Homo sapiens: one gene and its partner. The protein of the gene in region 1 interacts with the protein of each later gene in a pairwise test. Each region holds a gene or a part of one and is shown in the gene's direction. Other genes may lie near its edges.

Region 1 (3,827 bases):
ATTTATTTAGTGAGATCCAGCCACTGGGTTTGTGTCATCTGGGGAGTAAGTGGTGTGGATATGATACCTCCATGGCCCTGTCTCCCATGATTGGATGTTAGCAGGAAGGGAAACATGTATTTTATATATGTAGTATGTTGACTTTCTGAGTTACCTGGAAGAGCCAGGTCATTTAGTATTCCAAATAAGTGGATACTAGTTTCCTTATCAGTGTCTATGGCCAAAGGCAAATCCTCATACTTACATTGCCATCAAAGGTTGAAGGACTCAGACATTCTTGCTTGATCAGCTTAAAGCTTTCTAACTCCTATCCTGGGATGCTCAAAGTGACTCAGTAGTTCACATGTCCAGAAGAGCAGAACCTGCTGCCATTGGGAACACTGAATCCTTTCTTTCCCAAGTAGATACAACCTCGTCTGGCTTTGGGTTTTGCTGTTGCTATTATGGTTTTGCTTTCTATTCCCCCATGCTCTGGCATTTTTTCTTATGGCTTCACCCTTTCGTGTCTTCCTCCTGTGTGTGTGGGTTTCTGCTCTGCTCATTGCTGCTGTTGCACTGACGCCGGGAGTTTAAGAGGGAAGAGAACGCCCTTGCCAGCAGTGTCTCCTCAGTGTCAAAGCAGGGCTGGCTGGAGCTTCTTTTGGGAAGTAGGATTTGCTGTGTGAAACTCAGTTTCATCATAGAACAGATTGTGTGCCACCAACCCCAAATCCTTCCTTTTCTTCTTGGTACCTACATGACTGTCAAAGCTACCTGCCGTATTCCCCAACATATTCCTGTTTTCCACTTATATTTGGGGTTCCCATTATTTCAGGGGTGACCTCTGGCAAGATTCCGAGTCATTGCTGAACGTTGGTGTCTGAAGGAGCTAGATGCACATGAATTTTCAGTCTCTGAGTGTGATCCTACAGCCCCCCCCCCCCCCCCCCCGGCTCTGTTCCTGCCCCCACAGGGCTGCAGTGTCGCCCACTGGGCCTGATGGCAGCGACTGTGCTCGCCACCTGGTGGTGGGAAAGAGGTGCTCATGGTGAAGCATTGCCAGGCCTAAAGAGAAATTGCTCGCAAATGAAAAAAACCATGCAGGGAAGGTGTTTCTATGCATCTTTCGTATTCTTCCCATGCAGTTATTGAAATTCCTTAAACTCTGTGCTTTCCTATAGCTGGTAAGATCTTAACATTGCTCCTTGTTTTATCACAAGTGTTGGGGGTTTGCCTTGTAATTGCCAAGACGTCTTAATTGTTTCTTAATTATTTGAATGTTTTTGCCACTGCTTCTGAAAAATTTTTTAAAGCAAATAGGTGGGGGCATGAGTGTCACTTAGTTTTGAGTGGAAAAGGGACTTCCTGCTTCTATAGATGACATGAAATTTTCCCTAGGTGCAGAATTCTGAGTTCAGGAGAAACCAGGCTGTGCTTCTCTCCTGCAGGGCACTGAGGGCAGAGTCAGGCAGGTGTGAAGGCCCACACTTCACAAAGGGCAGCTTGAAAGGGGATGTGGAGCAGATGGGCCAGGGGGAGGAATCTTTTAAGGGCCAAGTAGAGGAAACCCTTTCTCATCCAGCAGACCAACAGGCAGGAGTTGGAGAAGAACCTAGAGAGACAGGTGTGCACCCTTTTGAGAGGGCTGATGTCTGCAATTTCTTCTAACCCCTGGTTATGGGGAAGTTGGGGAGAGCATTTCACATGAAATACACGTGGATTCTGAGGAAGACTTCAGGCTTTCGCTAGGAGAGGCTTTGGTGATAACATCAGAGACAAACTGCGGCCCACTAGGAGGGTTTCTGTGCCTCTCCCCAGTGCCTTCCTCATGCTTCTCCCAGGGAAGGTTTCATCTCAACACCAGCAAGAACGGAGGGACTGGCCAGGGCACCCTGTGCTGCAGGGAGAAAGGGCTGATGTCTGCATTCTGGGATTGTAGGAGCTAAGTGGGAAACGTGAACAAGAACACAAAGACAGGCATCTGTGGTTCAAAGCAGACATTAAAGGGCTGGAAGAGCAGCTGCCGAGCATCACCTGGAGAAGGCTGAGGACGCTCCCTAGTGATGGAGAAGGGACAGCACTGAAAGTGTGGCTCAGGGTCACATTCTGACGTCATCCTGGTGCCTCCTGAAAGCATTAGAAAAAGGCTTCATTTTAATAAAAGCAATATTGAGTTTTAAAACTTCCTTCCGAAGTGTTTCTCTTGTTTCAGAAGACATGGATTTTAGTAGAGTTTGGGGCTTTCTTCAGACCTTTGTGCACTTTTAATTCAGTTAGTCTACTTCATATTACTTTTTTCCTCGTTGAGTTTTTATTTATATTTGAAAGATTTTTAAAATGACCGCTGCTTTTAAAAATACACCTTTGAAAGCCATGAATTAAGAATTTATCGCGCTTTTGAAGTATTAAAGAAAATGGCAAGAATTACTTTTTTTAGTTTAACATATAATGGAATAGTGTTGTTGACACATCAAAGGGATAGATACCTATAAATAAAATATGGGCATGTTTCCTTACTGCCAAAAACATATATAACATTTCAAAGAGATTAGAAATTAAGGAAATTTTATTTTTCTCCAAAGAAAAGTGGCTAGTTTTTATATCACCACTTTTCAGGGCATGCTGAGGCTTTGAACAAGTCAGATTTGTTTTTCTTCTCTGTCAAGCACTTTCTCATACATTACTCCATTGATCCCTTTAACAGCCTTACCAGGGAGACACAGGGGAATTATAGTCACCATTTTACAGATGAGAAAAGTAAGACCCTTGATTCAGCGACTTACCAAGGATATGCAGCTAGTAAGCTGCAAATCAAGATTAGAAACCCAGGTGCCCTTTTTCTGAATTCCATTCTGCTGCTTACTGCTCTGAACTACTTTATTTCATGATGTCTAAAGACCTTCACACGACATAGACTATACTTGCACAGACTCTTAGTTGCATAAACCCCTGGGTACTTGGTATATTTTAAAATGACTTACTATTCAAGTATACAGTTCTATAATGCTGTACTCTTAAAAAAAAGAAAAACTTTTGCAGTTGAATGTGGATGAAATTTTATGATAGTCCGACGCGGATGATGAGATGTGCTGTAGCTCGGAAGGGGAATCACTTTTAGGTCATCCTCTTCCCTAAACAGTTGAGCCCAAATTAGCCCACAATGGTATTGTGGACTAAAATTGTTTCTTAATTGCTAATTCTTATCAAATCAGGGTTGGGAATGTTATCACTAAATACTATGTTGGAACAAGCGTTACTAAATTCGGTATTTAGGGTGACCTTTACTGTTGCTGTGAAATGTTTTAGGAAAGGGTTCCCAGGTCACAGATCTGTGTCAGGATTCTAGTCTTTGGTTAGTTTTTTGTTTCCTTGGTTATTTTCCTCCTCACTCTTCTTCCCCAACTCAAAGGACCATATTACTTACCCATTTAAAAAGATTCTAGGCTACCAGCAATTTTAAATTCTCAGTGACATGGTGATGGGGCATAACGCTCCCTCCCCATCCTTCAGCTTGGCTCGTGCAGCTCTGCCCCCCACACTTCTTGCCGGTGTCCTGTTTTCTGTCTGTGGAGCCCATTCACATTTTTCCCTTGTGATCTGTAATGTTTGTACAATGAGAATCTTTCTTTCCTTTTAGTTTTCATATTTTGTTATAATCATTTGAAAATAATTTTTTTTCTTCCTAGATTGAGATTGGAAGAGAGAAGAAAAGAGCTGCTACAGAAACTTGAAGAAACTACTAAATTAACTACTTATTTGCATTCACAACTTAAAAGGTGAGCTTATCAGATTTTTGAGGGGAAAGCTTTTCTCCGAATAGCATGTTCTTGTTCATCTTTGATTACTTT
Region 2 (2,957 bases), on another chromosome or scaffold:
TAATAATAACAATAATCAGACTGAAGTAAATTATGGTCAGACTAGTTCTTTAATTGAGCAGAGCCTCCTCATGTACGGGTAGGTATTCTTCCCATGTTTCCCCCTTTATTAAGTTGAATTCAATGCCATTTTAACACCCTGTTTTCAAACCCCGTAGCAGTACATTTTTTAAACTTGATAGTTTATAGTAAAACTGGTATTTTAATTATGGTGTTCTAGACCAGGAATCAGCAGATTAAGTCTTAATGGGCCAAATTCAGCCTATGGCCTGTTTTTGTATAGCCCATGAGCTAAGAATGACTTTTTCTTTTTTGTAGAAGAGAGAAGAAAAAATAGAAGAGAAAAGAAAACAAAAAACTAGAATATGAGACAGAAACTCTTTGGCCCACAAAGCCTGAAATTATTTACTATCTGGTTTTTTACAGAAAAGGTTTGCCAGTACCTACTTTAGACTCTTTTACTTAAATTCAGGTGATTCTACAGAAGAAGAATTTTTTTAATAATTTCTTTTTTTTTTTTTAACCTTTCCTATAGTGCTGAAGCTTATATACTACTGCAACTGAGCAAGTGAGGTTGAGCTGTGCTAGTAAGGAAAAAGATGCTCTTTTTGCTTCTCATGTTTAGAAATAGATCAGGAAGGAATAGAGAGGATTTAAGATAAGAAATGAAGGTTATGGGTTTTTTTGCCTTCTTTATCTTCTCAGATCTGTTGGGAAAGATAAGAAAGCTATTCAGGCATCAATTAGACGTAATAAGGAAACCAACACCGTTTTGGCCAGATTGAATAGCGAATTGCAGCAACAATTAAAGGTAATATAGTTTCTGAATCTTTATAATGTTCCTTATCTTAGTAAAGAAACCTAAAGAGAAGGAATGTGACCTCAGATACCTCCAAGATCACATATATGGTTCTCTTCTCTAATTTTCTAGATGCTTTGACTGTGGTTAGTTAACCCCTCCCCGCCACACACACACACACACACACACACACTTTTTTTTTTTTTTTTAAAGAGACACGATCTCGCTCTATCACCCTGGCAACCTGGGCTCAAGCTATCCTCCCACTTCAGCCTCCTGAGTAGCTGGGATTACAGGCGTGAGCCACTGCACCCAGGTCCTAGTTTGTCCTTTTATCAAAGACAACTCAGATTCCATTAAAGGGACTTAAACAGGTCTAAAGAAGAAGAGAAGTGGCAGCAATTTCAGTCATCTTGCATGTGGAAAGAGAAAAGGCAAGCCTTAAATAGAAATGCTGCTTATGCAGTGTGTATACTGTCACCTAATACCTGAGAGGAATGTGTTTGTTTTCTAGTAACTATAATTTCTTTGCATCCCTAGAAATAAAAATTACTCTTACTTACTCCTTCTTTATTGAGTCAAAAAAAAAAATTACTCCCAGAATTGCTTATGGTTCCCCAACATTATTAGGTACTCATGTCTTACAAACCAGTGGTTCTCAAACCTTAAGGCATATACAGGTAATCTTGGGTCATGTTAAAATGAAGATTCTGGTTTTTGTAGAGCTAAGGTGGGACCTGGGAATTCTGCATTTCTCCTAAGCTTCCAGGCAGTGGAGATGCTGGAGCACTGTTGGCCCCACTTGGAATAGAACAAAGATGAGATGAGAGTCCATGGAAATGAAAAATGAATGCAGTTAGTTCATTCTCCTAACATTCTGTTCATGCTCCTCATTTAGCATTTATTACACTGTCCTGGAATTATTATCTGTGACACATTTGTCTCTCTGTCCTACTACAGTGAACTCATTGAGGGTAAATCATAATCATTTCTGTTTAGGAAGACCACGTAATATACCATCCAAATCGAGACACTTTTGAGAGGAAAAAAAGAGGGTGGTATTACTATCATTTAGGCCAAGACACTGGGTATAAACTGGGATTGTCCTAGATAAACTTATGACCGTCTTGTCCCTCTCCTCGAAACCTAGTATGTTAGGCATTTTTTAATGTCTGTTGAATGAATGATATAAACTTATGGCCACTTTGTGTCTATCCCCAAAACCTAGATCATATTTTAGGCATTTGATAAACATCTACTGAATGAATGATATTGTTGTATAACTCTATGATCAGAGGAGAAGACATTTGTAGTTATATGATTATTAATTTAGTCCATCGTACAGGAAGAATGAACTTAAAGACAAGCTTAGTAGTATAATACCATGAAGATGAAAATTTTGTTAATGCATGTTTTTCTGAACCAGGGAAGACCATTGAAACAAGTATATAGAAGCTATTTTGAAAAATTACTTTTTTCCTTACTTCTGAGAACAGAAAATGGGAAGTAAGGTACAAAATAGAGGTAGTTCTGGTTAAAACACAATACTGTCAATTTGAAAGAGAAAAATAGGAAAGTAAGTAAGTTAGAATATGGTGGCTAACTGAAAAGACTGCCTAAAATCAACATTGATTAAAAATTCTGAATGCAAAGTTATTCTTTGGGAAACTAAAGCTCAAAATGAGATCTAGGAGTTGATATAGCCAGATGTCATCACTAGGGAAAAGAAGCTACATTAACAAATTCATCTACCAGGGGGCGGGTTTATTGCAAAATTCAGGTGTTAATACCCATTGTTGCAAACAGTGACTTTTCTAAAAACTAGACATTCTATTTCCCTGATTTGTGTAATAAGAAAATGTTTGAAATTACTAGGATCTTATTTTAATATTAAACATATAAAGAGACTACATTTCAGCCGGGCGCGGTGGCTCACGCCTGTAATCCCAGCACTTTGGGAGGCCGAGGCGGGTGGATCATGAGGTCAGGAGATCGAGACCATCCTGGCTAACAAGGTGAAACCCCGTCTCTACTAAAAATACAAAAAATTAGCCGGGCGCGGTGGCGGGCGCCTGTAGTCCCAGCTACTCGGGAGGCTGAGGCAGGAGAATGGCGTGAACCCGGGAAGCGGAGCTTGCAGTGAGCCGAGATTGCGCCAT

The links.
Region 2: the proteins of WWC2 (region 1) and REPS1 interact in a two-hybrid assay, tested with the Homo sapiens proteins (one large-scale study listed by BioGRID and IntAct).

What each region holds. Positions count from the first base shown.
Region 1 is NC_000004.12:183,255,974-183,259,800, forward strand, and holds part of WWC2 (protein WWC2), read left to right. Parts: intron 1-3,665; coding exon 3,666-3,755; intron 3,756-3,827. UniProt on the Homo sapiens protein: Regulator of the Hippo signaling pathway, also known as the Salvador-Warts-Hippo (SWH) pathway.
Region 2 is NC_000006.12:138,905,348-138,908,304, reverse strand, and holds part of REPS1 (ralBP1-associated Eps domain-containing protein 1), read left to right. Parts: intron 1-704; coding exon 705-810; intron 811-2,957. UniProt on the Homo sapiens protein: May coordinate the cellular actions of activated EGF receptors and Ral-GTPases.